Regions from separate parts of the Homo sapiens genome. Here region 1 is linked to region 2. Evidence: fine-mapped expression QTL. A gene starts in region 2. The other region holds a variant in brackets. All regions are shown on one strand. Distances are from middle to middle.

Region 1 (5,314 bases), 270 kb after region 2:
ATCTCACTACTAAGCAAGAAGAGATCCATTTTTAGCATCTCCCTCACCAATATTTTTCAGCCTTCTTAAAGCAACTCCATCACACGCAATCTTCTCTCCTCTCCTTGTTAGATAAGCTTCTAATTTGCCGTGAGAATTATTGGTACCCTCGAATACTGACCATCTTTCCACCTTATCCTAGTTAGAACTTTATGTCATGAAAGAAAGATGGAAAGTTTTGGTGACCCATTTCAGACTTTCCCATTTCAGTTCTGTGAATAAACATGAGAAAATATGGTAATAACCTATTCCAAAGTTCTGATTTTGATGGAGTATGCATTTAATTTGATGACAGACTGAATTTGGTTTAGGTTTTCTGTCTTCTTTGTTCAACAGGAATTCCGATGCTGAAGATCGTGTTTGCAGGCCATGAGCATCTCTCTTTAATATCTGTACCCTTGCTCATCTACCACCCAGCTCAGATCCTTCTGGGAAGTGTGTTGGTGCCAACAATCAAGTCTTGGATGGTATCAAGGCAGAAGGTGAGTCCCCAGAAAGATCTTATTTGGATCCAAGTTAGATTAAAATGCTGTTCCTGAATCTGAACTGTTCATACACTTTCGATTTTGCTTGCATATCTTTGTTTTCAAGTACATATTTTCTTACTTAAATACAATAATAATGGTGCACTGATCCATTCCAATTTGAACAGGAGGGTTGAGGTTAAAGATTTTAAATTGTTATAAAAGACAATTATACTTAACATGCAGTTTTTACAAGCTCTTTTGAATTCATTCATATTGAAGGGCATATTATATGGGGTAAAGGTTCAGTAAATATACTCCAAATAGATACCTGCTCCACTCTGGTGCATACCATCTTTGCCTCAGTCTTTCATCTATGTCTTACTTCACATGCCTTTCCAAATAAGATAGAACCTGGCATTATCCAGGTTGCCTACTTTATTTTTAATTTTCCAGATATATAATAACCTATTTGTACAGCAAAACTGCATTTGGGCATTAAAAAATAAACTTTAAGTAGCTAAGAAGTCCATGCAATGTTAATTTCACCACACTTAGAATCTTGTACACATTAGATATTTGTGGATTTCATTTCCTAAATTATCAACAAAATAAGTAAACCAGGTGATTCACAAGAAGTTTAGATGGTGCATATCACGTGGTAGCATTGATAGAACTGACTCCTTCCCAGTGATTTGGACATACCAGGACTTATTTTTGTCTATTCACAAAGTAGTGACTGTTATCAGGAGATGTGTGGGAAGAAGAGGTATCCAATGACAAGTGCCCTGTGTCATGTTCTTAATATCCTGAAAATAGGATGGCCACAGTACCACCTATTGAGCACTGTGTGTGCTAAGCACATCCTATCCTCTACCTGGTTCAAAGGATGGATCTTGGGCCAGCCTGCCTGGGCTCAGAGCTCAGGCTGCTGGCCTTCTCATCCTGTAACCTGGGGCATACTTTACTTCTCTGTAGCTCAGTTTCTGCTGACTAATGATAATATCTACACCCTAGGGTTGTAGAGGATTACGTGATGAGTGTTTGATAATGCTAGCTGCCATAATTATTATCATCATTGTTCATCATTATCTACAATGATGTTCACTGCAGGCTTTGCTCTCTCCATTTTATGGGTTAGGAAATGGGCTCAGGGAGTTGAGCAGCTGGCCTGAGACCATAGGGTAGTTCAGCCAGTGCTGGAGTTAGGACCTGAACACTGGGCTATTTGACCCCCAAAATCTTTACCCAACACGGTGATGACACTCCAGATAGAAATGTAACATCACTTTTAGAAGGTTTGCCCTAGGCACCCAGGATCCTACCTGAGAAGTTCAGCCCATCCAACATGTTCACTAATTCAGTTATTTAACAAAATGTTAACATAAAAAAGATTCCTCTTCTATGCTGGGTACCACTCCAGGCTCTGAGCCTCCTACTCGGAGTTGGTTGTGGAACAGTTCAGTAACTTTTTCTTTCTTTTACTGTTTATCCCCTTTGAAATTTTCTATTTCTATTTATGCTTATGTTTATCAATATGTGTGCAATTGTCAGTCAGAATTTGTACATGTAAATTTTGACAAAGAATGAAGAAAATTATTTGAAAATCCTAATACTCATCAATATTATACAGCCATAGTGAACAGCAAATTAATCAGAGTGAATTTTTCTTCCAAACATTTAAAAGCTCTAGAATTTGTTCTGTAGAATAACAGAAGCATTTCCAAAAGGGAGACTAAATTGTACACTGTTGTTCATTTTTCCTTTGTGTAGAAACTACTCCAAACCAGGGGGCCACTGGCTAACTTGAATAATCCAGAAGGCTTGGAATATCTATCCATCAAATTTGGGCATTAAAATAAATACCAAGAGTCCATCCTCCAGGTATCCATGAGTGCCTCCTCTGCTTTGCACACAGTACTGATTGAGACCCAAGGCTACCATCTAGTGCACAGGGGAACCATACGAGTAGCCAGGCCAGGTGTGGGAGGGGAAATGACAAAGTCTGCTGGCCAGAGAGGTGGGCAGGGAAATCTGTTTGTATCCAGAGGTTTGGATTATTGGTTATATGATGCCATCTGGGTGGGCCTCTTCTTCCTTCTAATAGCATAAATTATCTGGTGTTAATTGATGCTTTCACTTTCCTCATGGATACTGTCCAACTCTGAACATGTTTTCCTTCCTTGTAGGGAGTGAAGCTGACAAGGCCGACAGTATAACAAAGGAGGTGGACTTTCTGTAGCAATGTATATATGTACAGGATTGTACATACTAGCAATTCTGAAGACTTGTACTTGTGAATGTTGCCTCAATGCATATTTTATTTTTTTACACAAAAATATGAGATCCTGTTTAAGTGCCTTAAAATGTATTTGACAAGAGCGTTATTTCCAAAATATGCTTTGTTGATTACTGCCAGGGGTGGTACAATATTTGGGGGTTAATTTTGCTTTCCTAATGCAGGAATCAGTCATGGTAAGTGACAAAAAGCAAACATGCTTTCCCTGCAGCACCTTTGTG[C/T]AATACAACCCTATAGTAGTTACTGTAATGTTTGAAATGAGGTCACACCATCAGGAAAATGCCCTTCTGATGACAGTGAAAATTTCCAAAGTCTTATTCATGCATACTTTGATTTACTGTGTGATTCTTTTTTTCTACGACTGTGACATGCCTCTTCCTTATCAACTCAGCAGGGGTCATAGATCGAATAGATGCTGAAAAGCGTAAGATATATGCATTCCTTGACATCATTTTTAAAGACATTCCTTCAAATAGTTTCCACACAGAAATTCCTCACTCCCATTATGAGAGATTGTGGTTATATGTCTTAAATTTATTATAAGCTGCTTCAAAGAAAGGGTCTGAATGTTTGAATTATGAGTGAAATCATGTGAAATTTTGAGTTAAACTCTGTGATTTGATTTTCAGGGTCTTTAAAATATATCTTAATATCTTCTTCCTCTTTATTCAATAATTTCTGTCTTGCACTTACACACTCATAACAGCCAAATATGAGGCACAAAAATGTTACAATCAGTTTGAAAGCAGCATCAATTAATGGTAGATTCTATTCACATTCCACAACCCAGACCAAATTTTTTTCCTATTACGCAGATGTGCTGAGCACTTTCCAGATTGCCCCTGTTGGCCAAAAGCAGCCTGTTACATCCTGGAATTAAGCACACTTAAGGTATTTGAGACAATTTATTAATGAAAATTTCCTTGGCAGATTTGACAAATGTTGGCAATATTTTTTTAGAAGTTAAATCATATTGCTTTCATGAATAAATGAAAATATAAAGGTCATGGATGCAAACAAATGTTACATATACACATTCTGTCTCTCCAGATGAAAAGAACATGCAAAACCATTTAATAACCAAAATATCAAGTAAAATTAGTTCCCAACGGGGCAGCAGCTTTCAAATGAGTGTCCAATATTTGCTTCTGCTATAGCTGCAAGAACTGTAACTGGACCCAAGTAGAGAATGAAGCCACGTATAGAACTACGAGAACACTTTTCTGTGTTTCCCCCATGCCGTCCTGTCACATCCTCTTACACGTCCTCTCTTGATTTGATAGACAATATTGGCATCCTGGGTCTCACTGAGGCCGTGCTATGTCCTCAGCAGCTGTTTTTGTTGTTTCGTTATTATGCCCACAACAAAAAATCATTCCTTAGAAACTCACCAAGTTTATCTACTGTGTAAATTTATATTATTGTTACTACCAGGTCTCATCTTTTGTCAATGTCATTGAATAAATTTCATAAGAGTTATTCTCAGTGTGAATTTTAAGGCTAATGCCAGATCCTGCAAAAATCTATGCTAACCAGGCTGTAGTACACACTGTTATAAAGAATTTTACTTGTGTCTAAAACTACAGTAATTTTGCTTAGGTAATTGTGCTTACCTATGGAGCACAGGAAGGCTCTTAGGTTTTGTTCCTACAAGTTTCTTTGAATTTTGGAGTAAATGGAAGTGTCTGTCTGTCTGTCATCTATCTGCCCTATCATAAAAATCTTTCTCCCTAACATTAAAATACTGATCCCCGCCCCCAACTTATCTACCTCTATTGTCTAACACCTATAGTAGGTGTGATCATGGGATAAAATTCAACTGAAAATGCTATGATAACATTTTATCGTTTGCTTTAAAAATGTGCTTTGTTTTCAAATAATCTTTACATAGTGAACTTTGGTGGCGTTAGTGATATGTTTATGCCTATTTCTTTTTTTTACACAAATTCCTTGGCATATTTTTTCATAAAGAACAAAAAATAAAATCAAAATTTATTTTTAATTCATGCTTATTGGGATTTAATTATTCAGAGCTTAAAATATTTTGTTATGTTTATACACTGTAAAGCTATCTGTTTTATGCATTTGTTTTGTCTAAATGTATTTATGAAAGAAATACATTAGATTATATTTATGTTTACTCATTTTTCCACCTGGATTTTTTTTAATGGTTGTTACAAAATTAGATTTTTTAATGGGTAATAATGTTGGTATTTTCATGTTTTTTCTTAGTATTAAAATTTTTGTGGGTTTTTTAAAATTTTTCCCTATTCTGTTAAAAATTAACACACCTCTAGCTAATGTTCAGTGTTTGTGCTAAATACCAAATTTTTTCAAAAGGATTGGTTAAGTCATAAAGTGGATTATTTATGATGACTGGAAGATGAAAATAATTATATGATTAAACAAAGAATGTTTCAGAAATCACAAGAGAAACTGTGGCTTATTTTTAACCTGATTTCAGATGGCCTTGTGATGCCTTCTAAGTGTCTTTAGATTTCTCTTGATTCAT
Region 2 (5,326 bases):
GTTGTACACTACATTATTTAGGTTTGTGTAAGTACACTCTATGATGTTTCTCTAATGATGAAATCGTCTAACCATACATTTCTCAGAATGTAACCCGGTGGTTAAGCAATGCCTGACTGTATTAATTATTGTTCATCTCTTATTGTGCCTAATAATATAAACCAAAAATTATCATCATAGGAATGTATGTATAAGAAAAAATACCATAGCATATATAGATAGGGTTCAGTACAACCAGCAGTTTCAGGCATCTACCTAAGGTTCTTGGAATGTATCCTTTCAGGATAAGGGGGGACTACTGTGATTGAGTTAAGGCTCTTGAGAGATCATTTTGGATTATCTGGGTAGGCCCTAAATCCAATGACAAGTGTCTTTATAAAAGATACACAGAAAAGGAGGTGCAACGTGAAGATGGATGCAGAAACTAGAATAATGTGGCCACTAGAAAGAAATACAGAGGGGAATGTGATGTGAAAACAGTGGCAGAGATTGGAACACTCTAGCTACAAGCCAAGGAAGGCACCACCAGAAACTAGAAAAGGCAAGGAAGGACTCTCCCCTAGAGCCTTCAGCGGGAGTATGGCTCTGCCAAAATCTTGATTTTGGACTTCTGTCCTCCAGAACTGTGAGATAATAAATTTCTGTTGTTTGAAGGCATCCAAGTTCGAGTATTTGTTTCAGCATCCACAGCAAACAAATACAGGCCTTAAGAGAATATAATTCATGGTACATTATATTCTTTTCCTTTAAGTACCATTAAAAACAGAACAAAAAAATCTCTGAGTTAGATTCTGCTCTACACAGATCAAAGAGGTATTAGTAAATAATTTGTGAATAGCTGTACAGTTAAAACAGCTCAATTTCTGTAAACTTAATGTTTAATGATGTTTTAATACAAAACTATCCCTTCAATGACTGAGACGTATGACTCTTTAACCTACTAAGAAATTACTATAAGAAAATAATTATGTTGTAAACTATCTTTCATTTATCTTCACTTATCTTCTGACTGCCTGACAACTAACATCAAATTTTATATTTCATGTACCTGTCTCTTTTCAGAGTAAACTGCTTAATGTCATCTATGTCTCCCTGTTAAGTTCTTTTTATCTTGAAATTAATTTTTTTTCATGTTGCCTGATGTATAATTAGATGACACTTGGTACTGTGTAACCTACAACTGGGAGCACAACTCTTAAAGTGGCTTAGTTTCTGGAAGTCTTGCCATCAAGATAAAGCTAAATTAAATAGAGGAAATGACACGACGAGTGTCTTTCCAGCTTTGAATAAATTCAGAATTAAAGTCTGTCATCACGAAACAATCTCTTCCAAACCTTAAGTTCTATTTTTAACCATTTAAGTGGCAGATGCCAGGTTATTTCAAAATATCACATACTATTTTCTTTCTTTCTTCATTTGGATGAATGATACAGTGGAGTTCATGCTCTTGCAGGGTCTACCGGTAGGAAGTCCATTCATGAAACCATCAATGTCACTGGTTGCCACAAGACATTTCAAGGAAGAAACTGGCAGATAGAACTAGCACTCGTGGCAATGGAAGGTAGGACTCCCCAACCTCTCAGACTCAATCCCCCACCACTTCCGCGTTGGAATCCGCGACCCTCTTCCCAGAGTTTTCCTGTGGCTTGGGTAGGTCAGCCCTGGGGGCGAGCCAGAGCGGGCACCCGCGCGCCCAGGGGCTTGCCAGCGCAGACCCCACTCCGCCCGCGAGTAGCTTAGTTGGTGGGGAGACTTCAGCTGTCACTCTCGGCCCGCAAAGGCAGATCTGCCCCGATCCCTGCAGCCCTCCCCAGTCCCGGAGACAGGTGTGGGCCGCAGAGGGAAGGGGATCCGGACCAAATGCCCACCCGCAGGCGAGCGACCTGGCGAGGTCGGGCCCACCTTCCTTGGGTTGTAGCGGACGCCGGCAAGCAGGGGTCCAGCGAACGTGGGCATCTGCCCGGCGCCGGATTTTCAACCCACCGCCAGAGATAAGGCTCCCCGCCCACCAGCGAGCCACTTTCCCGCGCGGACACCTCTAACTCCGGCAGCTCAGGCTGGGAACTCGGAGATCCAGAGTGGCCTCCCCTCCCCCCCGCGCATACGTCAGCGCTAGCGTCGTGGAAGCGCCGTAATGTCCCGAAGAAGCGCGTCTCCAAACTTGCACCCCGCTGCCGCAGCTTCAACGGAGAAATCCCTTGCCCCAAGCACACGTCAGCCCTGCCCGCGGAGTCATGGCACAGCAAAAGAGAGGCTCTCCATGGAGATATGCTCCAGAAGGGTGGGTGGCTGTGCCTAAAGGTTTGTTAGAAAAGGACAGTCAGTGAGGCTTGCTGGCTGTGGCGCCTTACGACGCTCTCCCCGACCCCTCGTCATTCAGAAGGTTCCGCAGGTCTCGACAGCGGTGCGCTTGTCAGCCCCATCCGGCGGCCAGCCTCCCTTGCCGGATCGCCCACGTTGTCGGCCTGGTCCGAGTTCTTCATTTCAAAGCATCTGCACCTGCGAGCCCGCGGCCAGAGGCGCTGGGGGCGTTTGTGCGCGTGTATTCTGAGGCGCGTGGTAGTGATGGCGGCGCTCAGTGAGACTTTCCTGTCACTGGCTACTACTACTCCCAACCCTCCTCAAAGCCGCCGGAGCAACCCCCAGGTCTTTACTTTACAATCGGCAATTTGACTTGCTCTGCTGCATGTCTGGAGGGACCAAGGAAAGTGTGGAGACGCTCCAAGGATTAGGTGATCGGAGCTTGAAAAGAAAAAAAGCCAAACAAATAAACAAAACCCACCCACCCTAACAAATATGAGGCTGCTGGAGAGAATGAGGAAAGACTGGTTCATGGTCGGAATAGTGCTGGCGATCGCTGGAGCTAAACTGGAGCCGTCCATAGGGGTGAATGGGGGTAAGTGCTGCACCTCTGCCGGCTCCACCGCGGCTCCCACTTCAGAACTAATTTGTGAGTCTTGGAAAGGTGGGGCAACCCTCATTGCAAGCGCTTGCCAATTTCAGGGGGCACTGACCAGCCTTTGGCCCTTTTGCTGATTTTCTAATTTACCAACCCCAGAGGGAACTTGTAATTAGGAACGAGGCAAAGGAATTTGAGGGCAGGTAGCCTTTTCCGTAGACAAACAATGACTATCCTGAGTGTCAAGAAGTGAGGTTACAGAGAATGAAACTTACTCCTCTTGCCTTCAAAGTAGCATCCTATCCCAAGGGAATCTAGGTTGCTAAGAGTTCCGTATCTATCTTGGAGTGGACCTCATTATCGAGTCTACTTTCGAGTCCTCCCCGCCCCCACATTAAAAAAAAAAGTGGAGGAAAAACAAGAAAAGGGACACCTCCGCCCCCAACTCAGATTTTATGGCCCACATGTTGGAGAGTGATGATTTGCTGTAGTTGCTGGTGCTCCAGAAACTCCCAAGCCGACTGACACGTTGCACTCTTTGATTACAGGACACTTCATTACAGCATACTTCCGTGTGCTGCCGGGATTCAGTTGCTATACTAGCAGTCTAACAGATACAGACTGTTAGACTATGTGTAGTGTAGTGTAGTGTGTGTTTTGGCAAGGAAATGTGGATGGACTGAAAGCATACTTAGATCTCTGAATAGTGGGAGCTTTGTACAGGAGATGATGGGCACTGGTGGGAACATTAGAAATATTAGTTTTTTATGCCCCCCCCAACACCTTTAGACAATCTTGTACTACTTTTCATAAACATTAATTGAATTTATTCAATTCGCTTGTCTTTTTGACCTTGTTTGTCAGTTTCCAAGCTTATTGACAGGTTTAATACCTAACTCATGCAACCGGAGCAAATAAGGATAGAGGTGAACAGGCACAATATTTCATAGTAGGAAGCGCTCAGGAGGATATTTGAAGTTATTTTTATCTTTTTGTTAAAACATGATGGAAGTGAATGAAATGATCTCTTAGGAGAACAGCAGTGGTCCCTTCTCCCCTTAACCTCCACCCCATTACTCTGTTTAGAAGTAGCTTCCGGGAACATTTTAAAAGGAATTATTTAAACCAAAATTGTGGAGATGAAGGATTGTTTGTTTTAAAATTTTGTTCTTCTGTATTCAACTTAGAACAAAATGTGTAGAATATGTAACTGTGAGAATAAAGCAGTTATTCCTGGTGGTTTCTCCCTCTGATTGATGGTAATAGTTTCTTCTTTAACACTGCTGCTCTGTGAACTTTTGGGAAACTCTTGTGAAGATCAGGTCTGTCAAATGAAGACCCCCTATCCCCGGAGCTAAATGAATAGTAAGACTTAGAGTACCTTTGCATGATCTGCAATGCACACTTCACTAGCTATCGCTTCTCGTGTTAGATCTCTTATTTGCTCAGTTTTGAGATGAAATTACAGAGGATGTATGATCTTTAACTTTAAATCTGCAGGGGCTAAGTTTGGCAAAATATCTTTTACCTTGCATTCCTAAATATTCTGTGGGAAGAAAGGTGTTGAATGCTGAATCATTTCCGTGGGGCTTTTCTGCAGTGGCATGTATGAGATAGATTCTGCAAACTTATGTGTTCCATAGACTCTGCTTATTAATATTTTGGTACATTATTGTATCATAGAAATGCCATTTCCCATTTCCACTAGTCCTTCTGTCTTTAATGTAGGATAATTCATTCCTTTGTTTAATTATAATAGAATGTTAAGAGGGGGAGGGGAATATTTAAAGTGTTTTAAGCCAACATGCTTCTTTTACAGTTGAAGATACCAGGTGACTCTCTCTAGGTTAAGGTAGCTAGCTTAGGGAAGAGGAACTATTGGAGACCAGGGTATTTAAAATTCCTGGGAAACTTCTACTTCCCAAGCAAGCCAGATTCCTTGACTTTAAAATCTGCTCCTGAATCACCTTGCTTAGCTGCTGAAGAAATATTACCTGTGTGAGCTGCTGAGACAGATTCACTAACAAATATAAAGATAATGTACCTCTTATAAAAGTTTTTGAGCAGCCTTCACTGCCCCCAAATGCAATGCCTTTTGCACTTGCCTTCTCCCTTTCTTTCCCTTTTCTTAGATCTCAGCAAAATGATTTGTGTAAATGCCAGGCATATTAAATAATTTATTACAGCATTTGAGGAAATCTTTGTTTCTTTTATTCATTGTTGTACTACAAATGCCTAAGACATAGTAGGTCATCTCTCTCTATATATAGATAATATTATATATTATGTTAAATAATGTATTATATATTATCATATTATATATTATGTTATATATTGTATATAATATGTTATATATTATATAAAATATATTATTATATATAATATATATTCTCTCTCAGAGGGGCCTTGAGATATTATGTATATTAT

Evidence for each region. PIP is the estimated chance that this variant, and not a neighbour inherited with it, causes the effect.
Region 1: its variant is fine-mapped to the expression of SLC10A7 in blood mononuclear cells (TOPMed, PIP 0.98). The same link has a PIP of 0.9 or more in whole blood.

The regions. Positions count from the first base shown.
Region 1 is chr4:146,253,899-146,259,212 of GRCh38, reverse strand. It overlaps SLC10A7 (solute carrier family 10 member 7), which reads left to right. Exons shown (of 12, transcript NM_001029998.6): 11 at 376-521; 12 at 2,693-5,232. The coding sequence ends at 2,722. Among named protein-coding and RNA genes, the nearest start is that of REELD1, 42 kb to the right of the region's middle. The variant C/T (reference allele first, on the strand shown) is at 3,024.
Region 2 is chr4:146,519,188-146,524,513 of GRCh38, reverse strand. SLC10A7 (solute carrier family 10 member 7) reads left to right here and starts at 2,574. Exons shown (of 12, transcript NM_001029998.6): 1 at 2,574-2,896. The coding sequence starts at 2,797. RefSeq lists enhancers at 1,727-1,806, 1,977-2,396, 2,407-2,486, 2,707-2,776, 3,217-3,446.